7 linked regions of the Homo sapiens genome follow. The protein of the gene in region 3 purifies or fractionates together with the protein of the main gene of each other region. This does not show direct contact. Each region holds a gene or a part of one and is shown on either strand. Other genes may lie near its edges.

Region 1 (4,186 bases), on a different chromosome or scaffold from region 3:
AGAGACTGATAACTCTGGCTTCACAAAAACATGTTTCTCCATGTTAAATAAACAGTATAATCAAAGTCCAGATGCAACATGAAAAACTGTGGAAAATATTTGTAATGTGATAAAAGACAAATTTTTAAAATACACAGAGCCCTCAGAGATTAACGAAAAACCTCATTTGTTAAGCCAGACAAATATAAAGATACATAGATGGCTTTAAACCAGGGTTTCTCAACCTCTGCACTACTGACCTTTTGGACTACATAATTCTTTGTTGTACGGAATGCTTGTGAATTGTAGGATGTGCACCAGCATCCCTGTACTCTACTCACGAGATGCCATTAGCATCTCCATTCAATTGTGACTATCAAAAATGTCTTGAGATATTACCAAATGTCCTCTGGGGATCAAATTGTCCCTGGTTTAAATACACAAAGAGATCCAAATCCACACTTGTGATAAAATAAATGCAAATTTTAACAATAATGAGGTGACACTTTTTTCTCTAATTAGATTTTCATCATTAACTATTTTGCGGTTAGCCAACAAGTGGGATTAGAGGATCTCATTTATCCTTTTGGGTGTGCAACCCTTCTGGGGGGTCATCTGGAAATATCTGTCAAAATATAAAGTGCATTTCCTCTTTTTTCTTTTTGAGACAGACTCTCACTCTCTCTCGCAGGGTGGAGGGCAGGGCAGTGGCATGATCTCGGCTCACTGCCACCTCCGCCTCCAGGTTCAAGCGGTTCTCCTGCCTCAGCCTCCTGAGTAGCTGGGATTACAGGTGCCCGCTACCAGGTCCAGCTAATTTTTGTATTTGTAATTTTTGTAATTTTGTAGTTTTAGTGGAGACGGAGTTTCACCACGTTGGCCAGGCTGGTCTCGAACTCTTGACCTCCAGTGATCCGCCCGCCTCGGCCTCCCAAAGTGCTGGGACTACAGGCGTGAGCCACTGTGCCCAGCCACATTTACTCTTTGATCCAGCAATTTCACTTCCAGGAGTTTATCCTACATATACACTTATATATGTGCAAATAGATAAATACAAGTATAATTATGGAAGCAAAAAAAGAGTATCCAAAAAACTGGAAACAGTCTAGTATCCAACAATAGGGAACAGGTTAAATAAACAAAGGTATATTCATATACAGGTTGAGCAAACCAAATCTGAAAATCTGAAATCCGAACACGTCTGGAACCAAGCATTTTGGATAATGGATACTCAAGCTGTTACAGAATATTATGCAACCATTAAAAAGGAGGAGGGGCCAGGCGCAGTGGCTTACGCCTGTAATCCCAGCACTTTGGGAGGCCGAGGCAGACGGATCACGAGGTCATGAGATTGAGACCATCCTGGCTAACATGGTGAAACCCCGTCTGTACTAAAAATACAAAAAAATCAACAGGGCGTGGTGGCACGCGCCTGAAGTCCCAGCTACTCGGGAGGCTGAGGCAGGAGAATTGCGGGAGGCGGAGGCTGCAGTGAGCCGAGATCATGCCACTGCACTCCAGACTGGAAGACAGAGCGAGACTCCATCTCAAAAGAAAAAAAAAGGAGGCGGAAGATCTGCCATGTACTAAAAATGTATGTCCCTGGGCACAGCGGTGCATGCCTGTAATCCTAAATACTCCAGAGGCTAAGAAGGGAGGAACATCAGCCTGGGAGTTCAAGGCTACAGGCCAGTCTGGGCAACATGGGAGACCCCGTCTTTAAAAAAAACAAAGAAAGAATGTCCCAAGACATACCAACTAAAAGTAGCAAGACCAAGAATAGAGTCTGCTGCTATTTTTAAGAAAGGGTATGTGTGTGTGTGTGTGTGTGTGTGTGTGTATCCGGATGTATACAAATTATGTTCATACATGCACGAAATAGAAACGTAAGTAACTGGGGAACTAGATTTTAGGGATGGGGAGACTCACTTTTTACCCTATACTCTTTGAACTGTTTTAAGTCTTTGGCTATATGCCTGCATGTTTCAGGCAAATTACAAAATCTGACAACACGTCACTCAACTCAAGATACCCAGACCTTACATAAACCAGAAAGTAGAATGGTGGTTGCCAATGTACGAGCGGAGGTGGGGAAGAGGAGTTGTTTCATGGATAGAGTTTCAGCTTGCAGATGAAAAAAGTTCTGGAGATTGACTGCACAACGATATGAATCTACTTAACACTACTGAAGTGTACACTTAAAAAACGGTTAAGATGGCAGATTTTGTACGTATTTTAACACAATTTTTTAAGGTGAAAAAAAAATCCCCCAAAGATACCCATGTTTTAAGATCGGTTTAGTTTCTAATTTGGAAATCATTTTTTAAACACTCCATTATTACTCTAGAATTGAGCGTCAGGAACAAGTGAAAACTCTTTAAACTCTGGAGCTGCTCCTGCGACCTTTCACCTAGAACTCACACGCATTCGGCCAGGCACGCACTCCTGCTAAACTCAGGGAGGGCCGGCACTGGGGGCGGCGTGGTGACTCCCCCTCGGCCCTTTACCCGTGGAAAAGGTTTCTACACTGCTGCCATCCTGTAATACAAAAGTTTGTGTTCCTTTTCACACGTTACCGCAGATTCTCGGTGCACAGTGCCCAGCGCGGACCAGAGCTCAGAGCGTGCCCAGGCAGTATCCTTGACCTCCCACAGCCGGGCCGGCCAGCCCGGGCGATCCGCGGCGGCCCCACCGAGACGCGCCCTTCGCCCGACAGGGTCTCTCCCCGCGCCGCCCCTACCCCCTTACCCGGTGTTGGGTAACATGACTTTCGTAGATCAGAGGAGGTGGCGGCGACAGCGGCGGCGGCGAGCAGAGAGCTAAAGCTGGACCGTCCCTCCGCATTTATCCCCGCCCCTGCCCCGCCCCTGCCCCCCCCGATGCCTGTGCGGGAACTGCGCGCGGAAAAGCCGGGATCGCCGAGTGCGCCTGCGTATGCAGTGGGCCTCCTGCGCCCAGCGTTCCTCTTCGTCGCCTCCCAAGCCTGGTCCCTGATTGCAGGCTCTCCGCGCAGGCGCTTTGAGGCACAGCTCCGCCCCGCCCCCTCACTGGTCGTACGGTGACAATCAGGCTCCTGTCGGCGCCTAGCGTCTGGGCAGCGTCAGCCGCTACGTCCACCTTTTCCCTGTCTCTAGGGGTTTCTCCTCGCGCCGCTGTGTTCCAGCGCCGGCTCCGAGCTGGGAGGGTGACTGAGCCCTGAGCTTGGGCCCTCCGAGAGGTGCGTTAGCTCTGGGTCTTCTTGCCCCTACGCCCGAGCCTGGCGTTCTCTCGGCCCCCTCTTAGGAACGCTAGCCCTGGGCAGAAATTGCCTTTGTGGCTGAAGTCGGCCAGCGTCGCGTTTCCACTCTCCCGCCGAATCTGGACCCAAGCCAGCCTTCCCTTGTGCATCGGTAGATAGCTTGTGTTAAGGCGCCAGCTTCTTGGAACAGAGCTCTCTGCAAAAGTCGCGCTGAAGAATTCATAGTCAAAAGCTGAACTTGCAGAAGTTTCTACTTCTGGAATGAGTGTTGAAATGAGATCAATTCTGACATTCAGTTTCGCTTTTGGGATTATGCCTTGGACTAACTCAGCTACTCTGATGAGCTAAAGACTGTAGTATATTTGAAGGAAGACACGAGGAACTGTTTTGTATTTTGTAGGGATAGAACAGGACCTTGAGGAGATTATTATATGAAGACTAGTTAAAGAAACTAGCCTGGAGATGGCTTATGTACTCTCTCCTTTGTTTTTGTTTTGTTTTTTGAGACGGAGTCTCGCTGTCGCCCACGCTGAAGTGCAGTGGCGCGGATCTCGGCTCATTGTAACCTCCGCCTCCCGGGTTCAAGTGATTCTCCTCCCTCAGCCTCCGGAGTAGCTGGGACTACAGGCATGCATCACCACGCCTGGCTAATTTTTTTGTGTTTTTAGTAGAGACGGGGTTTCGCCATGTTGGGCTGGCTGGTCTCGAGCTCCTGACCTCAAATGATTGGCCCGCCTCGGCCTTCCAAAGTGCTGGGATTACAGGCGTGAGCCTCCGCGCCCGGCCTCTCTCCCCTTTGTTATGGGCCCTAAATGACTCTATTTCCTCCTGCATATCACCTGCCCGACTCCTGTAGGCATTTGAATTGATGATTCATGATACGGTCTTTAGAGGCTCCAGAGGAATTTGCAAATTATTATCATCCACTAAGTGATTGCTGATTACCTGAGATACAGCAGCTCAAAAAGG
Region 2 (2,850 bases), on a different chromosome or scaffold from region 3:
GGTGATGTCAAAGGTATATGATACTTGAGGAAATCAGGCCAAGTGTAGCTGAGCAATTAATAAACACTCAAGTTTTTTTAGTTGGGGTCATGTCAAACCCTCACATGGTGGTTAAGTAGTGACTAACTGTGCATGTCCTTCATGGTAGGTGAGCACCAGTCTCCATGATCAAAAATGCCCCAGTTTCCTTTGAAAAAGCCACTAGTTCTGTGAATTGTCCTTTTCCCTCCTGCCCCTAACAGTCCTACCCCTCTAGCCTACATTAGCATATTTCTCATGTAATGTATTTTGCTGGTAAGCTCATCCATTAGCTGCGTCCTTCAGCTATTCCTTTAGATTGGAGGAAGTGGATATGAAGATGGATTGATTCAGCTCACCTTCCATGATTGCTTTTGAGGGAAAAGCTACAGTGGCCACATTTCAGATGTTCACTTTTGCAATTTGTGGAGGGTGGAGAGAGGTAGACTTTTGTTGTGTGTTTTATAAAGTACTCTCAGTAAGGAGTGTTTGAGTTGAAGAGTCATCTGATTCGAGGCCACTCATGTTCTTTGTAACTTAAACTTTGACCAAGAAATTCTTCACTTCTCACTTCTTCACTTCTTCCCAATATACAGTAAGTACGTGAGCCAGTCATCCATACACTAAGGCCTAGTTGAGAAAAACCTTTGATTCAGGATGGCTGGGTTACTAACCTTGAAATGTAAGAGATCTGGTTTTGAATGTAAAAGTTGCAACACACAAACGGAAGTCTTAAAAACTTTTTGCTCTGGTCAGTTACAGGTGGATCCCCAATAATCTGTTTTTGGTTTTCTGATGGAAATAATAGAATTAGGGGAAATCAAATCTGGTTGGTAGGTGTCTACAGTATTAGAAGAGGGTATAAGGGCACTGTTTAACACTAAGTTCTAATACTTCCAGAAACTGTGCATTCCAGATCTACATACTAAATGCTCTTATCATTTTGAAATGGGCTCTTGATTAATAGACCCATATTTTTTAGTGGCTTCTATGTTGTATATTTGTCTAAAATGAAAGCTCTTTTGCGTTCTAAAACTACAATATATGTCATCTTATTTTCCCTGAGTATCCAAGTATAGTGCAGATTCTATGTAAAACTACTAAATGACACTGGAATATGTTTAGTAGATTAGGGGGAAAAACTATAAAGGTTTATACAATTGTTTGTAGTTACATTTAGGATGGACTTATCCCTTTGGAGAAGAGTGAAGTTTGTTTTTTCGCCATGTGATGAAGACCACTGTGATTTTTTAAAAAAGTAGATAATACTTAAAATGGCGTAATAATTCTGCACTTGAATTTGTACTGTTAACAGCACATTTGGAAGATTTTAAAACTTTTTATTGTCTTATAAATAGCATTCACTTATTATTTTGGATATTTAAGGGTTCCATTAAGTTAACACTGTATTTGGACAAAGTGTGACCAAATTAGCCAGTCTGTTTTCTTCCATGTTTAATTAGAAGTGAGAGGTAGAAGTACTTCAAATTCAACAGGCCAGCAAGCAATCGGCTTAAAATTCCCTTTCTTAAATGTTGTGCTCTTATGTTCTCGGCTTTTTAATGACTTTATTTTTACAGTACTTGTTCAGTCACTTGAGATGAAATGCTTGGGGTAGCTTTTCCATCCTCAAACTTAATGTTTTTACTAGTTCATAGTGTTTGGAACAGTATATGCCAATCACTGAGACTGCATCAGAGTTTGCAATTTTGTATGTTTCATTGCCAAAGAAGGCTTAGTGGTTGTTGACTGTAGTATAAGTCAGCTTTCTGTAGCATAAGATTTGATTTTCCCATACTTACTTCACTTGTTATACATCACTGATTATTTGGGTTAAACTGGACTCATTTCAAGCAGTTTGCTTTTGTTCAAATCGTGATGAGAAACCTAATACTGTAATTTGATTTGAGCCATAAAACACATTTTAATATTAGCTTGTATTATAGTTATTAAGCTTGTTTTTGTGGAAAAAAACTTACTAAAACCTAGGTAACTCTAGATTAGGCCAGTTCAGGTGTATTTTGTATCTTAGTAATGGATCATATCGTAAAAATAGAGATAAGTTGGGAAGATATATTGATTATGCTGTTCTGTTGAGGGAAAGGTCATGTATTTAGAAATTTAAACTTTTGGTTATTGTGTTCACATCATAGTATTCAAGCATCATTTATAGTTTGGTTTTGAGAACTTTTCTGGTATTACGTTTATGGCAAATGTATAAAAGAAACAAGTTTTGGTTATATTTTTATATTTGTAAAGTAAGTTTGGTTAAAGTGATCACTGTTCTTTTTTTATTTTATTGTCATTTCAATAAAAAATATTTGAAAGAGAATGACTCTGTGATTGTTTTGGGATAGTAGTCCTGTATGTGTGGCTGCTGATCCTACTGTGCTAGTAGAAATCTTGCATGGTTCGTCACTGTGAGTGGCCGAGGGCCTTTAGGTAAGAGACAGCTTAGCATAATAGCAAGGGCCTGATGGCCTGGGTCACTGATGTTGCCCTCTCCTTGTGCCCCACACACTCCCTCCTCCCATTGTGTGTTAGCAGTGTTTCAGTTTCCTGAGGTGTGAAAGGGTCACTAGATTTGGAACATGAAGGCCACAAGTTAGAAGTTGCTACACAGTTGTGTTAACTGTGTGTAGTCCATATCATTGGGGACTGAGTCCGAGTTTCCTCATCTGTAAAGGGAGGGTTGACTCCTTTAGTTTTTTTTCTCAAACTTGCCTGGAATTCATAATGTTCTATGACACACACCATACCTGCTGCATATGTAATACTGTGTAATTCAATGTTATCTTAAATAGAAAGTTTACCCAAAATACGGGAATATAT
Region 3 (3,500 bases):
CAAGACTCGGACTCAAAAAAAAAAAAAAAGAAAAACAAAAATACTAACAATTAAAGGGAAGCCTAAGAAAGGGGAACTTGCATAATATGGAGAATTCAGCCCAAAGAGCAGATGTAAAAATGGAAGAATATGAAATCACAGAAGTTAGGCAAAGTGTTTCAAAGGCAAGAAAATCAGCAATGCTAATTACTGCCAAATAAAGCAGTGAAGAAATTAGTCCAACAGATTGAGCAATAAATAGATTCATGCCCTAAGAGCAATTTATTGGCACAAGCCATAGACTGAGTGAGTGGAAGTTGATGAAATAAAGCATGGACAACTCTTTTGAGAAGCTGGGTTTTGAAGGAAAAGTGCGAACAAAATTGGTAACTCAAGAAGGACATGGGACCAAGATAAGGAGCATTTATGTGCACACAAACCTGTGTTAATGAGTGCAAATGCATCACAGGTACACACATAGAAGCACATGAAATTGTAAATAAAAGGAAGGAGTTTGAAGACTGAAAAATACAAGAATAAAAATCACAAAACCAAGTCTCTGAAAAGGCAGATGATGTGCTACCAAGCACAAGTAAAGGGATTAGTCTTAGGGAAAATGGCATTTCCACAGTAATAGGAGAGGTAATCAAAAGGATAGGTGTAACAACAGGTAAAAGCATTATCAAATTTAGGACATCAACTTGAGGGAGTTCTCATCTGATTTCTCTTTTATGTAATATTTAAAAGACAAGGTCATCCACAGGCAGAGCAGACAGTATACAAGCAGAGATTTGAGAAGAGTAGAAAATGAAAATGGCCATTGCAGAGACCAGGGCAGTGTACCATCTTAGGAAATAATAAACTGTCAGCAAGGCTGAGGTTCTTGTTAAGGTTTGTGCCAAGAATTAATACAAGTACCAATGAGTAGGGTGTGTTTTTCTCCAGGTGTAGTCAACAGCCTGGAAATAGCATAAAAAAGGCAGACTGCTGCATTCAAACCGAACTAGAGTTTTGCCAAGCAGATATGACAGAACAGTGAGACAAGCAACTCAAGGACATCTGTAAGAGTGTGGTTAAAGTGATGGACTATGGCATCTAAGCTGATCAGGAACGCAGTCAAGATTGGAAAGGGAAGATTGCAAAAAAGTAGATCTATGGACTAGAAAACCTAAAAAAGGGTACAAAGTACACTATGAATAACTGAGTAAAAGAGGAAAGGAGGTCATGGTTACATAATAAAATATCTGAATTTATTATTTCAGAAGTAGAGCAATTCCTGGTGTTTACAAGGCACAGTGACTCTAAAATGGAGGGAGGTCATTGGAAATGTGTGGAAAGCTGCCAGATGGACAAGAAGGGAGAACAAGGCAGACAGAAGGTCTAAAATAACATGGTGTTCAAAGAAATGCAAGTAGTTTGACATTTCTAAAACCTAAGTTAAGAGGCATCAAGATGAGGATAGAGAAGGGAAGAGCCAAATCATGTATGTGATGGTAAAGAGAATAATCTTTATTTGGAATGCAATTTGCCCAGGATAAAAGCTGTCCTCAAATATCTGAATGGCTGTCATATTAAAAAAGAATTCGACCAGTTCTAGGAAATGGAAGGGTGGAAGGTACAAGGAAACAGACTAAAATAAAGGAGAACATTCTAAATGAGTAAATACATAAATAGGTTGTCTTGAAAAAAACAAAAGTAAACTCTTTATTACTAGAAGTGTTTAAGCAAAACTCAATGCTGATCAGCCTGTAATGTTATACAAAAAATCAAAAAGGGGACCTTTAAGTCCCTTCCAACTCCAAGGAGGTAATAAGAGGCAGAAAGACAACACTTACCAATTCTACACCTATTACTCCTGCACCAATAACAACCATCTTTTCTGGAACTTTTTTTAAAGATAAAGCACCTGTAGATGACACTATTGTATCTTCATCTATCTGTAAGAAAAACAAAAGATATAATCAAAATAATTTGAAAAAACCTAGTACAGTCGACCCTCCATATCCATGGGTTCCAAATTTGCAGATTTAACCAACCATTAATTGAAAATATTCAGGAAAAAAATTGATGGTTGCATCTGTACTGAACATGTACACATGGTTTTTTTGTCATTATTCCCTAAACAATACAGCATAGGAACTACTTGCATAGCATTTACAGTGTATTAGGTATTATAAGTAATCCAGAGATGACTTAAAGTATACAGGAGGAAGTATGCAGATTATATGCAAATACTATGTCATTTTATGTAAGGCACTTGAGCATCTGTGGGTTTTGGTATCCAAGGGGGGTCCTGGAACCAATCCTCCAAGGATATGAAGAGATAAATGTATTTATAAACTGTGATCTCAGTAGAATCACTAAAAATACTAAGTCATTTATTTGTTTTGAGGTATCTATATACCTAATTTCATCAAATCCCATTAAAAACACTGACTTTAAATTTTATCCACCAATATTCCAAACGCAATGGTCAATTTTAACTTCATACTGTATTCAAACATATCTTAATATAAAGTGTTCTATAGCTGGTCAGAATCACTGCAGAATAAAGACAGGTAACTTCCCAAAGCTGAATGACCATCAAAATATAGTATTTCAGTCAGAAATCTCTCAAAGTTCACAAATAGCATAAATAACTTATAAAACGTATTTCTAAAGAAAAGTTGTAATGGTTGTAAATTATGAAGCATAAATACCGTGATTCCAGGAAAAGGAGTAACTTCTGAACCCGTGGCTATAAGAATGTTCTTTGTATCAATAACCTGAGTGCCGCCATCAGCTTTCGTAGCAGTGACTTGATTTTTGCCAGTTATCTTTCCATATCCATTGACATGAACAACCTTTACAAAATAATCTTTATAAATTCACAAAGTTTAAAGTAATTTGTTTGATAAATCATTCAAAGGAAAAATTACTCTGTAAATAATTTATCTAAAACAAAATGCTTCCTTACTTAGTAATGCTACACCATGGTGCAGCAAAAAAATCTGTGATATATGTCAGGGAAATCTATTTCAGGTTAGCAAGCTATTTTAAATTAAATAAATATTCCCCTGTAACCAAGTTCAAATATCATCACTCTATAATGCAAAGTTTAATTTGTATTCAAAGTAAAGCAGAAATCTGAATATTAAACACTGACCTTATTCTGTTTGAATAAGTGGGCAATTCCACCTGTTAAAGCTTTTACTGCAGTACTCTTCTGCTCCATCATCTTGTCTAAATTCAAGCGAACTTCGGACACTGTAATTTGTTCAATTAATCTTTAGTTCTTAGCTAAATTCTTGAAGCAATATGCAGTGTTTTTCACTCACCAACTGGAAAATTTCAACCTAATGCTTATAAAAGGCAGTATTAAAGTTTCAAAATGTAATAACTTATAATTATAGTTGACAAAAGGCCAACATCATTGTATCACAGAAACAGAACCTATCAAACACTATAAAATGTCTACCTTGGGTAAAAAGGCAGTCCAAAATAAAACATTATATCCCACTGTGATAACATATCCTCTGAAC
Region 4 (3,500 bases), on a different chromosome or scaffold from region 3:
CCTGAGTAGGAGGGCAGTGAAAGAACAAGCTAGTGGTTCTTAGCGCGTGGTCCTGGGACCAGCTTCGTTGTCTGGAAATGTGCTAGAAATGTGGTTATTGGGCCCTGCCCCATGCTGAGTAACTGCCTTTGGGTGATTCTGAAACATGCTCGCGTTTGAGAACCACTGGACTAATAGAACACTCCCCAGTGCTTCCTGCAGCCTGGTTGCCATGGCCTCCAGCTCACCAGTTGGGGCCAGATGTGCACATGCATCCCCTCGGACTCCCTCAAACTCGTAAAACACTTGGGTTTGGTGTATGGGTCACTCTCTTCCGGGTTCTACAGTATGGCAGCCATGGCACCCATGAAGGTGTTACTTTCCCTTATAATTGTTGAAGTCGATGGGCGATTCTGCCCAACCTTAGGAGAAGACATCAGAGAGGCTCGTTGTTGCCTGTAGCTCAAGCATGTCCCAGTCCCTGCTCTTGCACCCACCTCCAGGATTTTGGTTTGGGACAGACTATAACCTAACAGGAACTCAGTGACCAGGTTCCAGTTTCCCAGTTGGAAGGCTTCGCAGGCAGTTCAAATTTCAAGATGGGAGCCTTCCCTTTACAATGTCACCCACTGTCTCCAGTGGGCTTGATGAAATGTCACATAGTGAATTGTAGCAATGACTTATTTTGGATGGACACCCGCTAAAAGTTTCCAATAACCGAATTTCACTCTAAAAGAGGAAAGAAACAATATTCAAGGTCCATTCATTCAATACATCTTTTTTTTTTTTCTGTTCAACATGGGGTGGTCCTTTGAAATGGCACCTCCCCTAAGTAATAAGGAAAACCAAGTATATTCCCTAAAGTGTTGAAGTTAGCAGAAAAATCACCCAGAAAAGCCCAAAACAATGACAAGAGTACAGAAACAGGCATAGTGTAGGTTCATGCTTGAGATGGATTAGTGGTTTATTCCATCCCGTTCTATCCTTTCCCGTATCTCCTGTCCCCACTTGTTAAGACCAGTAAGACTCATGAAGCAGCAGCTATATTTCATGGCACCATTTTGGGTCATGAAATTCCATCTTGGTCACCAAGCCTGACTGTGGTGGTAGATACTGTTACTTTAATGTTCCAAACCCTGCCTAGAAACCTGTTCCTGTCCCATGATCCCAGCCTCACCACCCCCACTTGAAACAGCCCTTCCTACTGGTATCCTGTCCTCTTCCCTCTTGGCTTTTTTCCTGCTCCCAGCGGAACCCAGTCAGGGGATTCTATAGGAGAAGAGGGAGCCCAACAGAATACTAACTTCAGTGGAGCTGACTCTGCTTATACAATAGGGGTGGGCTGCACAGAGTGGAAACCGAGTACCTGGTAGAATGTGCATTTCCATGGCCCACTGTAGGCGCCTCTCTTAGAGCAAACAGTATTTTAGGTGTGCTCTTTATTGAACACAGGACCACAGTGTGTCACTGAATCTTCTTAAACAGAAGCAATTAGAACGATTTAGATATAGGGAGGGCACAAGTAATAAGTAACCCAGGGGATAGACCAAGAAGCAGCTCTCTGGAAGAGTCTGGAATTAAAAAGACGGCTGTACTAGAACAGTAGCCACTGCCTGCTCCAGAACTAGGGGGGAGATATTTGAGCTGGAGCCACCAGAGAACATTTCTATTGAGAAGTTTTTATTTGTTTGTTCTGTTGGTTTTTTGTTATTTCTGTTTTCTTCTAATCTTTCTCTGAAGTATCACTCTGGTATTGAGAAATTTTTATTTCATTAGCTAACCTGGGCTTGGTGGTTAAGGCTAGTACTTGTACTTAGAATGATTCTCTGTCAGGAAAAGTCTTGGCTTTAGAGTTTGTTATAGTTGGGGATATAACAATTACTGTGATCGAAGAGAAAAAATAGCACCTTTGGTTGTAGATAGATGTAGTTTTCCTCACAGCCCTCACGTCCCTTCATGTAAAAGGGATTTTAACAGGATTTACAGAGGGAATGGCTCTCAGTTCCCACACTGTGACATGTGTTTGAGGAATTTTGCCTTTAAGCATTTTTCTTGCACATGGCTGAAACACCCCTGGCTCTCTTGTTATTTGAGTGGTTGCATGATTCTTTGGATATTTGGAAGTACAAAGGGGTAAATGGATGCCAGGGGTTTTTTGTTGTTGTTGCTTATTAGGTAGGATATGAAGAGTTCTCACTGTTGGGAATGGTATGTGTTTTGACATTCTTTTTTTTTTTTTTTTTTTTTTTGAGACAGAGTCTCGCTCTGTCGCCCAGGCTGGAGTGCAGTGGGGCGATCTTGGCTCACTGCAAGCTCCGCCTCCTGGGTTCACGTCATTCTCCTGTCTCAGCCTCCTGAGTAGCTGGGACTACAGACGCTCGCCACCACGCCCGGCTAATTTTTTGTATTTTTTTTTTTTTTTTTTTTTTTTTAGCAGAAACGGGTTTTCACCGTGTTGGCCAGGGTGGTCTCGATCTCCTGACTCGTGATCCGCCCGCCTCGGCCTCCCAAAGTGCTGGGATTACAGGTGAGAGCCACCGCACCCGGCCTGTTTTGACATTCTTAATGATCTTAATAATTTGGCATCTGAAAGTCTGAAACAGTGTCAGTATTGTTAGTCAAAAAGAACAAGTTCTTCAACCACTTGCGTAGTACCCCAAATTATATTCAAGTCCCTGTGACTCCAATGCTTGGAGAAGTCATTGATATGATTTGATTAATGTTATAACTTTGAATTTCCTAACTTTCTCAGCGGCATAGATTCTAAGCCACTTCCATGTGCTTTCAGATGGCATCTTAATAGATTGGTGTTGAGGTTATTTTAATGTCCATAAACAAGAAAGGTCTGGGAACAATCTGTATGATTTTTCTTTCACATTTTCTTATCTTTGCCACTGGAGGTTAACTGTCGTCCAGATATGCATATGAATTGTGAAATGCAAAGAAGCAAACATTTGGGGGTAGGGGAGTAAGTGCTGTAGTTCTTTTGTTCACTTATTTTAATACTATAGAAGTGTATTTCATTTTATAAAAAGCAAGAATCATAAAAACCCTCTGTATTTTGATTTATGAAGAATATAGCTTCTCTCTGAAGTATCTCAAGATATATCTTGGGGACCACAATGGGATCACAGTGTAATTGTTTGCTGTTGGTGTCATGTTTGGATTTTAGCATGGTTTGTTATGCATGTCAGTGGCCTCTGATTTCAGAAAGAGCTTGGCGAGGGCAGAACACATAAGGGAAGGAAACCTCTGCTCAAGAGAGTGGCCTGGGATCACAGTGTCGTCATTCCCAATTTCCTTGAATTCCTTCTTGGCAGACCTTACTGTAATATTACACAAAACTGTAATGAGTGGCCCTCCTTTGGAGGTAACAGATGCCTTTCCTAAGAACTCAAAGTTCTCTTTTCAGCGTGCTGTGACTTGAATATGGAAATCATTTTAATTTCTTCTTTTCTCTTATGGGGAAATTTCCATGCTTGGTTTGTCAAGACAAGAGAATTCATTCCTTATTATTGAAA
Region 5 (3,500 bases), on a different chromosome or scaffold from region 3:
TTCCACTTCTGTTTTCCTTGCATGGCTTATGAATTAACTTGGGGTTTGGGCTGGCAAACCTGCTCCTTCTTAGAGCACAGATGTCATTATCTCTCTGGAAGTATGGCCTTCTTGGAAACTTTGTGGTTCCCATACATATAACAAGACAAGCGTGAAAAAAAAAAAGACTTTAAGTGTGGTTTTACTTCGTTTCTTGTTTACTTTATTATCTTTTCTTTTTTATGGCTTTTTTTTTGAGACCGAGTCTCACTCTGTCACTCAGGCTGGAGTGCAGTGGCGAAATCTCAGCTCACTGCAACCTCTGCCTCCTGGGTTCAAGTGATTCTCCTGCCTCAGCCTCCCGAGTAGCTGGGACTACAGGCACGTGCCACCACGCCCAGCTAATTTTTGTATTTTTAGTAGAGACAGGGTTTCACCATGTTGGCCAGCCTGGTCTCAAACTCCTGACCTCAAGTGATCCTCCCACCTCAGCCTCCCAAAGTGCTGAGATTACAGGCATGAGCCACTATACCTAGCCTATTTTTTTTTTTTGCTTGTTTATTTGAAAATGAAAGTCTTTGGTATTAAGGCACATAACACAAATTATCAGTGTGGTTCGTTCTTTTTCTACCCTGTCTCCCAGTTTTTGGTAACACAACAAGTATCTTTTAGAGGTTTGGGCTGTGGTCATGTTTCTTCTGTGAGTATTCATTTAAATATGAACCTTTAACTACAGGAGATCATGAAACCTGGATTTCAGAATCAGTCTTCAAATTCCACAGAAATAGATAAATATATAAGGCAATCAAATATTCTATGTTTGTAAATGCCACGTTATCCTATGCATTTTAATTTTTCACAGGCCAGAAACTTGTAGTGAATAAATTGGGAGTAGGCAGAATTGGATTTCATTATGATATGGCCGGCCCTCCCTCCCTTCCTTCCTTCCTTCCTTTTTTCCTTCCTTCCTTCCTTTTTTCCTTCCTTCCTTCCTTTTTCCTTCCTTCCTTCCTTCCTTCCTTCCTTCCTTCCTTCCTTCCTTCCTTCTTCTTTCTCTCTCTTTCTTTCAAGATGGGTTCTCAATCTTTTGTCCAGGCAGGAGTGCAATGGTGCAATCATAGCTCACTGTAGGCTCAAATGCCTAGGCTCAAGCAATCTTCCTGTCTCAGCCTCCCAAGTAGCTGGGCCTACAGGTGCATGCCATCATACCTGGCTGATTTATTTTATTTTATTTTGTGGAGACATGATCTTGCTGGGTTGGCCAAGCTGGTTTCAAATTCCTAGCTTCAAGCAACCCTCCTGCCTTGGCCTCCCAAAGTGTAGATATTACAGGTGTGAACCACTGCACCTGGCCTGATAGGGTGTTTCTAAATAGAAATCTTGAAATCATTAGCCAGACATTCTGTTTACCTTTCACATAATTTATAATACTCTATTTTAATCCTTCATTTTTACCCAGTACATTGAGCTGATCTTAAGATTGTGGTGGCGGGCGCCTGTAGTCCCAGCTACTCGGGAGGCTGAGGCAGGAGAATGGCGTGAACCCCGGAGGCGGAGCTTGCAGTGAGCCGAGATTGCGCCACCGCACTCCCGCCTGGGCAACAGAGCGAGACTCCGTCTCAAAAAAAAACAAAAAAAGATTGACTTCTGAAATAAAAGGTGAAAAGGCCATTTTCTTTAAAATGATGATAAATGAGGCTGGTCGCTGTGGCTCATGCCTGTAATCCCAGCACTTTGGGAGGCCAAGGAGGGTGGATCACCTGAGGTCAGAAGTTTGAGACCAGCCTGACCAACATGGTGAAACCCCGCCTCTACTAAAAATACAAAAAATTAGCCGGGTGTGGTGGTGCATGCCTATAATCCCAGCTACTAGGGAAGCTGAGGCAGGAGAATCACTTGAACCCGGGAGGCAGAGGATGCAGTGAGCTGAGATCGTGCCATTTCACTCCAGCCTGGGCGAAAGAGCAAGACTCTGTCTCAAAAAAAAAAAAAAAAAAAGTTATTCCAACCTGAAAACCTAGATTTCTTAATCCCTTATGTTTCTTTTCTCCCCACCCGCTCCCCTTGCCTCATGATTTAGGTCCATGGTGATGCTTCTTTCTGTGGTCAAGGGATTGTTCCTGAAACATTCACGCTGTCCAATCTCCCACATTTCAGAATTGGTGGGAGTGTGCATTTGATTGTTAATAACCAGCTGGGTTACACCACTCCAGCTGAAAGAGGAAGGTCTTCTTTATACTGCAGTGATATTGGTACGTAACACAGGGAGGAACTGATATTGCTGAAGCCGACATGGAATTCCTAGGGAAACCTCTGGTGCACACAGAACAATGAGCCTCACTGGTTATCCCTCCTTTCATTTAATTAATTAATTAATTAATTAATTTTTTGAGATGGAGTCTTGCTCTGTCACCCAGCCTGTAGTGCAGCAGCACGATCTTGGCTCACTGCAACTTCTGCCTCCCGAGTTCAAGTGATTCTCTTGCCTCAGCCTCCTGATTAGCTGGGACCACATGCGTGCACCACCATGTCTGGCTAATTTTTTTTTTTTTTTTTTTTAGATGGAGTCTTGCTCTGTTGCCCTTTCCAGCTTGTACTCCATGCTGGAGTACGTGATCTCGGCTTACTGCAACCTCCGCCTTTCAGGTTCAAGTGATTCTCATGCCTCAGCCTCCCAAGTAGTTGGGACTACAGGTGTACACCACCACACCTGTCTAATTTTTGTATTTTTAGTAGAGACGGGGTTTCACCATGTTGGCAGGCTGGTCTTGAACTCCTGACCTCTGGTGATCTGCCTGCTTAGGCCTCCCAAAGTGCTGGGATTAAAGGCGTGAGCCACCATGCCCAGCCTATCAGTGTGATTTTTAAATCCAAAGAAATAAGACAAGGATGGAGCCACAGTGTGCCATCTCAAATTTCTTATAACTGGATGGGTGATCTGGTACAAGTCAGAGATCAACACAATGAGTACAACACCAGAGTTGTTATCTCTAGGATATTCAAACTTGGAGTGCCCAGGGGCTTAGTGATAAGGGATGTGTTCAACCACTAAACTTGGTGAAATAGTATAGTTAGAAATAAGATGTGAAGGCTGGGCACAGTGGCTCACGTCTGTAATCCCAGCACTTTGGGAGGCTAAGGCAGGTGGATCATCTGAGCTTGGGAGTTCGAGACCAGCCTGACCAACATAGAGAAACCCCGTCTCTAATAAAAACACAAAATTAGCTGGGCATGGTGGTGCATGCCTGTAATCCCAGCTACTCGGGAGGCTGAGACAGGAGAATCACTTGAACCTGGGAGGCGGAGGTTGCAGTGAGCCAAGATCAGGCCATTGCACTACAGCGTGGGCAACAAGAGCGAAACTCCATCTCAAAGGGCAAAAAAAAGAAATAAGATGTGAAGAATCAAAGTCAGCTTCTTTTTTATCTGTGGAAATTGGTAGGTTTTTTTGTTGTTGTTGTTGTTTTGAGAGTCTTGCTCTGTTACTCAGACTGGAGTGCAGTGGTACAATCATGGCTCAC
Region 6 (3,500 bases), on a different chromosome or scaffold from region 3:
TAAGTTCTATGCTAGATCCTTGGCTTAAGTTACCTTATTTAAACTTCATTAGAACCTTGTTATTCAGGGAGTTGAACAAGACCTCAACACCAAGCCTGTTGGATCCCACTGTACCATTCGGCCTCCTTTGTTTTACACTGTTCACAAAGGAACCGTATGTCACTGGGGGATTCAAAGTCCTTGTACATTGTGGAGTAATCTGCTATGTACTTTATTTAATGAACCCATTGCCTCCTACTAAGTATAGATCAACTTCTTTGTTTTGATTGTTAACATTTTGAACATTGCAGATCAGTGACCTAGGTGGTGGTGTCCCACTTCGAAAAATAGATCGTCTTTTTAACTACATGTATTCTACTGCTCCTAGACCCAGCCTGGAGCCTACCAGAGCTGCCCCTTTGGTAAGCATCTGAAAGTGCTGCTGAAGGAAAGATCATAAACACAGGAAGGGGCTCAGAGGGAGCTGCCTCTCTCCCCAGGTTGTCACATTAGTGTAGTTGATTTAGAAGGTTGCGTGTATTATGGTTTGGAGGAGGGAGAATTTTTTGCCTTGGCTACTTGCTTTGTGAATCCTTTGGACTTCAATTTCCTCTCTGATTTGTGTCTAAGAAACACTCCTAGCTGAGTGCCTCATTCCCATATACAGAGAAAAAGTACCTCATTGTGGTAAGACTGCTACTGTAGCACCATTTTCCACTTTGTGCTACCCTTGGAAGGGGTGGAAGTTGCCAGTGGGTGAGCAAAGGGACAGTACTGAATGCATAGCTGCCGCTTGGTCCTGCGCACTCTGGCGTGCGTACCACAGAGGCGCGAATCACCTAGTGCCTTGGAATCTCCACTGTCAAATTTGTTTATATAATTAAAATGTTAAATTATGAAAACATTAAATTTTTATGTTAAATAACATTAGCATGAAACATATAGGTGGTGTATGCATTTTCAGAGCCCTTTCTGTCTCACTCTGGAAATAACCTTCAGCCCTGTTAAGGCAGTGAGAAAAGCCACTGGTTACCATGGTAGCATTTAGATCCTGGTAGGGCCACACTTGCTTCCCCTGCTGAGTGTTTCTAATTGACAAACAACAATTGAACCCTTTGTCATTAAACACAGCAACATATCTATCAGTCTGCAAAATGGTTCAGGGTATAAATTAAGTTTCATTTTAAAGTCGTACCTGACTGATAAGCACATAAGATTATATTTTATTTGTATGAATAAAATCAAACACTTTGCATCATTTATTTGAGACAGAGTTTGTTAACTCAGCATGTTGGAAACAGGAAATCATTTATATAGGAGTCGAGAAAATTCATGAAAGATCACATTTGAGAGGCGTTGCCTTGACTAGGCTCTGGCATGCACTTAAATACACATCAAAAGGAAAAAAGGCACCACAAACAAATCTAGCACCTTCCCCAGTTGTTTAAAAGAAATATAGATTGTCTCTTCCAGGTCTTAAAATAGCATCTTGAGGATAGCTGTTATATCATAGGTTTTTTTTCTTATTGAAACTGAGGGCTTGTAAGAGACTTTTAACAGTTAACGCATGCGCACTCCCATTGTATAGATGAGGAAATGAGGAAATGACCTTGTCCAAAGTCATTGAACTAATTAACTGCAGAGCTGGTGCTGGCCATGTCTGTGTTCTTTCCAGTGTACTACGTGGCCGAAGAAATGCTTCTGCTAGTGGCTCTCCCAGTTAGGAAACTGGCCTGTAATCCTAGCACTTTGGGAGGCCAAGGCGGGTGGATCACTTAAGGTCAGGAGTTCGAGACCAGCCTGGCCAACATGGTGAAACCCTGTCTCTACTAAAAATACACGAAAATAGTCGGGAGCAGTGGCGCATGCTTGTAATCCCAGCTATTCAGGAGGCTGAGGCACAAGAATGGCTTGAACCTGGGAGGTGGAGATTGCAGTGAGCCTATATCATGCCACTGCACTCCAGCCTGGGCGACAGAGCGAGGCTCTGCCTCAAAAAAAAAAAAAAAAAGAAAAGAAAAAGAAACTGTCCTCAGCTTTAAAGTGGGCACATGGATATGTACTACTAGAAAACATAATTTCCTCATTGAGCAACTTACACTTTTACACCTTTTACACCTCTGTGCCTTTACATGTGCATTTCTGTTTGAGAATATCCACCCAGCGAACTCCTGCTGATCCTTTGACACTCTGGGAAACCTTTCCTGAACCTCAGCAAATCCGAGGTCCAGACCCCTCCTCTGCATTCTTTGGGAGTCTGGGCTTACACTCACATCTGCATTGGCCTCGGAGTTCTCGGCTCTTCTGTGTTGGACATGAGGGCAGGCTCTGGGCCTTGCTTGAACATAGAAGGCAGATTTGCTCACATCTCTTCCTAGAGTGAGCTAGTTTCTTTGCTGTGGTTACCTGAGTCACTACTATAAATATCTCATCTTCACTACTGGCCATATTCAGCAAGTCCCAAAGCCCTTAAATAATGGGGTACGTTCTTTTACCCCCTGCCCTTTCAGTTAAACCCTACCCTGAGGGAAGGTATCAAGGAGAGATGTTAGAAAATGGCAGAAATCTGTGTAACTTCATAAAATTGCTGCTCCTAGTAGCCATAGTACCAGCCTCAATTTATTTAGTTTTACTGTGTTAGGCACTGTGCCAAGATTTTATACTTGTTATATTATTTAATCCTTATAGCAGCTCTGAGGTCAGTTTTTTATCATATGTTCAGATGAAAACATGGTCTCAAAGAGGTTGAGTAAACTGCTCAGAGTCGCACAGAAAGTGGATTTCAACTGGGTCTGTCTGAGTCTAAGGCCCATGTGACTCTGTGCACATGGTCCCCTGCCCTCCTTCCTTAACCTTGTTCATAGATTTAACCAGAAGTGAGGAAGCTTGGTGTTACATCTCCTTCCCCACCCTGCCCCACTACCACCACAAATGGTATTACATTTAGTTTTGATTCTTACTGTTCTTGTCCATAGAACACCTGTTATTGACAGTCAGGATTCCTTGACATAGAGATATAGGAGGGTACTGAAAATTTTTTTAATCTCTAAAAATACCTGAACTACAATATACCAAAATATTCTCACATTCCCGGAACCTTAGTAGTTGCCTCTCAGAAAATTGTTTTCCTTTCCATGTTCTCGTCTTGTTACTGGTAGATTTGTACTCAGCACTGCGCTATTGATTTTCACTTGCAAAAGCAAGGAAATCTGATCATGGGACTTTGAAATGATGTGGTTTAGTTTTGTCATCAGGTCACATTCCACTTGATTTGGAATGTGCTTTTGTGTGTGTGTGTGTGTGTGTGTGTGTGTGTGTGGAGATGGAGTCTTGCTCTGTCGCCCAGGCTGGAGTGCAGTGGCGCCATCTCAGCTCACTGCAACCTCCACCTCCTGGGTTCAGGCGATTCTCCTGCCTCAGCCTCCTGAGTAGCTGGGACTACAGTCTCCCACCACCTCGCCCAGCTAATTTTTGTAGTAGAGATGGGGTTTCGCCATGTTGGCCAGGCTGATCATGAATTC
Region 7 (3,942 bases), about 31 Mb from region 3:
TTTCTTCATCATACTTAACTTTTGAGATTCACTGCACCCTCTTTAACTAGTTCTGTATTCAAGGCTGTGAGAAAGGGGCAGGAAAGGTGAGATGGGGATGTGTGCATAGCTCTGAGGGACTAAAGGAGCCATGTCCAAATGTGGATAAATCTGGGCACCACTGCCTACATAATACGCCCCCCACCAACTCTTTTTTTTTTTTTTTTTTTTGGGGACAGGGTCTCACTTTGTTGCCCAGGCTGGAGTGCAATAGCGTGAACATGGCTGCTGATCTCCCCAGCTCAAGTGATCCTCCTGCCTCAGCCCCGCAAGTAGCTGGGACTACAGACGCACACCACCATATCCGGCTAATTTTTGTATTTTTTATACAAACAGGGTTTCACCATGTTGCCCAGGCTGGTCGTGAACTCCTGGGCACAAGCGATCCACCTGCCGCCTCCTCCCAGAGTGCTGGGATTACAGGTGTGAGCCACCGCTCCTGGCCTAATCCCCTTTCTCTATTTGAATATCTAGTGTTAGAATCTGAAAACTAGAATGTGTGTGGCTTCTTGGTTTTTGAGACAGGGTCTCGCTCCGTGGCCTATGCTGGAGAGCAGTGGTATGAACATGGCTCACTGCAGCCTTGATCGACTTCTTGGGCTCAAGTGATCCTCTCACCTCAGCTTCCCAATTAGCTGGAACTAGAGGATGGGCCATCACGCCTGGATAATTTTCAAATTTTTTGGAGAGGAAGTCTCACTACACTATGTTGCCCATGCTGTTAGAATGTGGGTTTTAGGATCTGCAGATCATGTTGAAAGCAACATTCATTAGCTGCTTAAAAACAGAATTAATCTGCTTTAATACAAATTTAACTTTTTAGTAATTTAAATTTTATGAGAAATCAACACCAATGTCAAGCATTAACAAATCATAGCATCCACTTCTATTAATATATAAGCCCAAATTTGTGGAATTTGACATGGGAATTCTAGGTTAATGTAGGATAGAATACTGCTCTTGATTCGGTTGAGCCTGAATCATGAGGACAAAAGGGTCAGCAATAGACAGGAAACAGTAAATAGATCACAAGAACCCAAAAGAGATCAAATGAAATAGAACACTGTATTTTCCCTGTGGAGAAAGGGTAGGTTTCTCCCTAATAGAATCCCTTCTCCGGAGGGAAAGGATAGAGAAAATGGGATGGTTATTCAGTTAGCTGTGAGCCTGAAGGAAACAGAAACCATTTCCCCTATGCTCAAGTGCATTCCAGAGTGGTATTTCCAGAATGTACCATGAATTTCAGAACCATTACCAAGTCTCTCTCAAGGGTAATAATGTTATCCCCATAAGGTACAACTATAATCATGTCACCTCCTTAAAAATCTTAGAATGGGGCCAGGTTTGATAGTTCACGCCTGTAATTACAACACTTTGGGAGGCCGAGGCAGGCGGATCACCTGAGGTCAGGAGTTCAAGACCAGCCTGACCAACATGGAGAAACCCCGTCTCCACTAAAAATACAAAATTAGCCGGGCGTGGTGTCGCATGTCGCCTGCCTGTACTACTCGGGAGGCTGAGGCAGGAGAATCGCTTGAACCTGGGAGGTGATCACAATCTTAGAATGGCTTCCCATTACACTTACAATAAAGTTTAAGTTCCTGTTCGGCCTACCACTTCATCTACCTCCACTTCACCCACCACACCTTAGGGCTAAACCACTCTCAACTGGCAATTTTTCTCCCCTTGGGCTTTCAATTGTGTAGCTTTTAAACCTGGACCCTAACCCCAATTTACTTGCTAACTCCAAATTAGCCTTCAGGTCCCTGATTAATTTCCTCCGGAAAACCTTCCCTAACTACCCCTTCTTTATACCCCAGCCCCTGTTGTCTACACCTTGAGCACTTATTTATCCTCAGTACTTTACTGTATGGCTCCTTAGGTGGGCAGCAAGTGTCTTAAGGACAGGACACATGTGCATCTGATTCTTCCTGTTTAGACCAGGTTCCTAGCACAGACCCTAACGTTGCCACCTTTTAAAAACTAGGTGAATTTGAGTTCTAAGATTTTACATTCTGACGTCCGTGGCTCAGAAATTCGACAGTTGATCGTTCTCCCTTTCCCCACATTGCTCAAGGGCAGCAAGTTTCCTTCCCTAAAGCCCAGTTGTTCTTTTCCGCCTCAAAAAGAAATGCTTCTTAGAATAACTTTTCTAGGGGACGGGTGAGGAAATTGTTGGCCAGATGCTGTGGCTTTAAGTCTAGCAACAGTACACCCTTCAACTCCATCTTCATTGTTTTATCCCCAGCATTGAATCCTCCATTCCACTTTCCTGACTGCCCTCCGCAGAGGCAACAGACCAGCCAATGAAATCCTTCGGGACGGGTCCGCCCCTCTGCAGGACAGGCTGACGTCCCCAGAGCGACTCTGCGCCCCCCCCCGCTGGTCCTTTGGTCCCCGAGTTTATGCCAGAGCATGGAGCCTAGGGCCTGGGTTGGTTTGGTCAGAACCAGGGCTCCGTGGGAGGGTTGGCCTCAGAAATGCAGGAATTAAACACCGTGCTCCCCACCCTAGCCCAGACCCGGCTCTTCCTCCCTCCCCAGCACGTAGAGCACCCGGGACATGGCTCCCGTACCCGATGTGCACGGAAAGCCTTCACAAGGTACCGATAGGCCGCGGTGTCGCGATAGGGTCGGCCGGTGGCCGCGCTCAGGTAGCGCAACTCCCGCAGAAGTCCTCGAAAAGTGTGCGACGGGGACCCTAAGGCCGCCATTGTCCTGTCCTTCTCCGAGCGTGGTGCCCAACGGCGTCCTACGACCCTGAAAACCCCTCCTCCGGCCCAGGCGCCTAATGGTACGGTCGGACAGACTACCGACTCCCCCTATCGACTGACGAGCAGTGGAACCGCTCACTTGTCCGTTGACCGAACCTTATTAATCGAAGGCCCAGGGGCGCCGTAACAAAATCAAACGAAACCCGACTGTTAACTGAAGGTACCAGGACCTCTAACCCAGAACAAGGGTTTGGGGAAACAGGGGCTTTTCTTCACTGCGTCATTGAAGATGCCCGTTAGCCGACCAACCGCTGAGTCTCAGGAGAAGCGGGCCCGGCGGGGGGTGTGGGTGTGGATTTGATATGGAACACGCTGAGAAGACATTTTTAAATGATTTATAAAAGGGATATCAAAATTCAACGTATTGACGTCTCCCCAAATCCCAGGGGACCTGCGGCTCAGACAAAGGACATGGGTGTGTGCAGATTCTCGAAAATTGCAGCCCACCAGCTAGTAAAAACACACACACACTTCCCATTTAAAAAAAAAAAAAGTAAAGTTGGCATATTTCGCTTTGTTTAGAAAGGGGAAAAAAGGACAAAAGTCACAGGCCACCCCAGATGGGACTCGAACCCACAATCCCTGGCTTAGGAGGCCAATGCCTTATCCATTAGGCCACTGGGGCTTCTGCAAACGACGCGCTCACACAACATATTCAACTATTTTCCTCTTTGGTACGTCATCGTCACTTCATTTTCGCCTTACCCTATCCCACGAAACCACACCTAGCGCCCACGTGAGGGGTGACGTATGCTGGGAGTTGTAGTTAGAGAACAAAAGTCCACATCACCGCGCCAAAGGCTTTACCCTCGAAACTGCACCGATGCTCCGGACGTTGAACGGGCGCGCGCACGCTTCTGCGTACGCGCTTGCCTGCGCAATAGTCTCCGCGCCTGCGCCGTAGTCCCCGCGCCTGCGCAAAAGCGGGCATGCGCCGTCGCGGAGCACAGCGCGCTGGGCAAATTGGCCGGATCTTCGAGACTCGCCCTCTGAACGTCAGCTCTGGTGGGTTTTTACCGGAAGCAGCCGGACCTTTTCCGGTGTTGCGAATTTCCAGGAGGAGCTTTGCTCCAGCGGCCGTTAGATGGCGCCTGCCGCGGTCAATTTCTGCTTCCGGTTGAAGCGTTGAG

Evidence for each region.
Region 1: the proteins of DLD (region 3) and HSDL2 purify together in Homo sapiens (affinity purification with mass spectrometry; 2 studies listed by BioGRID, with this or other methods). This does not show direct contact.
Region 2: the proteins of DLD (region 3) and NUDT21 purify together in Homo sapiens (affinity purification with mass spectrometry; 2 studies listed by BioGRID, with this or other methods). This does not show direct contact.
Region 4: the proteins of DLD (region 3) and SLX4IP purify together in Homo sapiens (affinity purification with mass spectrometry; 3 studies listed by BioGRID and IntAct, with this or other methods). This does not show direct contact.
Region 5: the proteins of DLD (region 3) and DHTKD1 purify together in Homo sapiens (affinity purification with mass spectrometry; 2 studies listed by BioGRID, with this or other methods). This does not show direct contact.
Region 6: the proteins of DLD (region 3) and PDK3 purify together in Homo sapiens (affinity purification with mass spectrometry; 3 studies listed by BioGRID and IntAct, with this or other methods). This does not show direct contact.
Region 7: the proteins of DLD (region 3) and FMC1 purify together in Homo sapiens (affinity purification with mass spectrometry, with the first as the bait; 3 studies listed by BioGRID). This does not show direct contact.

Annotation. Positions count from the first base shown.
Region 1 is NC_000009.12:112,378,722-112,382,907, reverse strand, and holds the start of HSDL2 (hydroxysteroid dehydrogenase-like protein 2), read right to left. Parts: upstream 2,801-4,186; 5' UTR 2,745-2,800; coding exon 2,728-2,744; intron 1-2,727. UniProt on the Homo sapiens protein: Has apparently no steroid dehydrogenase activity. Controls bile acid (BA) and lipid metabolism in response to nutritional cues.
Region 2 is NC_000016.10:56,428,633-56,431,482, reverse strand, and holds the end of NUDT21 (cleavage and polyadenylation specificity factor subunit 5), read left to right. Parts: 3' UTR 1-2,350; downstream 2,351-2,850. UniProt on the Homo sapiens protein: Component of the cleavage factor Im (CFIm) complex that functions as an activator of the pre-mRNA 3'-end cleavage and polyadenylation processing required for the maturation of pre-mRNA into functional mRNAs.
Region 3 is NC_000007.14:107,904,683-107,908,182, reverse strand, and holds part of DLD (dihydrolipoyl dehydrogenase, mitochondrial isoform 1 precursor), read right to left. Parts: intron 3,226-3,500; coding exon 3,125-3,225; intron 2,823-3,124; coding exon 2,679-2,822; intron 1,917-2,678; coding exon 1,815-1,916; intron 1-1,814. UniProt on the Homo sapiens protein: Lipoamide dehydrogenase is a component of the glycine cleavage system as well as an E3 component of three alpha-ketoacid dehydrogenase complexes (pyruvate-, alpha-ketoglutarate-, and branched-chain amino acid-dehydrogenase complex).
Region 4 is NC_000020.11:10,623,805-10,627,304, forward strand, and holds part of SLX4IP (protein SLX4IP), read left to right. Parts: 3' UTR 1-3,500.
Region 5 is NC_000010.11:12,089,454-12,092,953, forward strand, and holds part of DHTKD1 (2-oxoadipate dehydrogenase complex component E1), read left to right. Parts: intron 1-2,059; coding exon 2,060-2,231; intron 2,232-3,500. UniProt on the Homo sapiens protein: 2-oxoadipate dehydrogenase (E1a) component of the 2-oxoadipate dehydrogenase complex (OADHC). Participates in the first step, rate limiting for the overall conversion of 2-oxoadipate (alpha-ketoadipate) to glutaryl-CoA and CO(2) catalyzed by the whole OADHC.
Region 6 is NC_000023.11:24,527,786-24,531,285, forward strand, and holds part of PDK3 (pyruvate dehydrogenase kinase, isozyme 3 isoform 2 precursor), read left to right. Parts: intron 1-290; coding exon 291-401; intron 402-3,500. UniProt on the Homo sapiens protein: Inhibits pyruvate dehydrogenase activity by phosphorylation of the E1 subunit PDHA1, and thereby regulates glucose metabolism and aerobic respiration. Can also phosphorylate PDHA2.
Region 7 is NC_000007.14:139,340,195-139,344,136, reverse strand, and holds the start of FMC1 (protein FMC1 homolog), read right to left. Parts: upstream 2,801-3,942; 5' UTR 2,753-2,800; coding exon 2,615-2,752; intron 1-2,614. Other genes in the region: FMC1-LUC7L2 readthrough protein, read right to left, coding at 2,615-2,752. UniProt on the Homo sapiens protein: Plays a role in the assembly/stability of the mitochondrial membrane ATP synthase (F(1)F(0) ATP synthase or Complex V).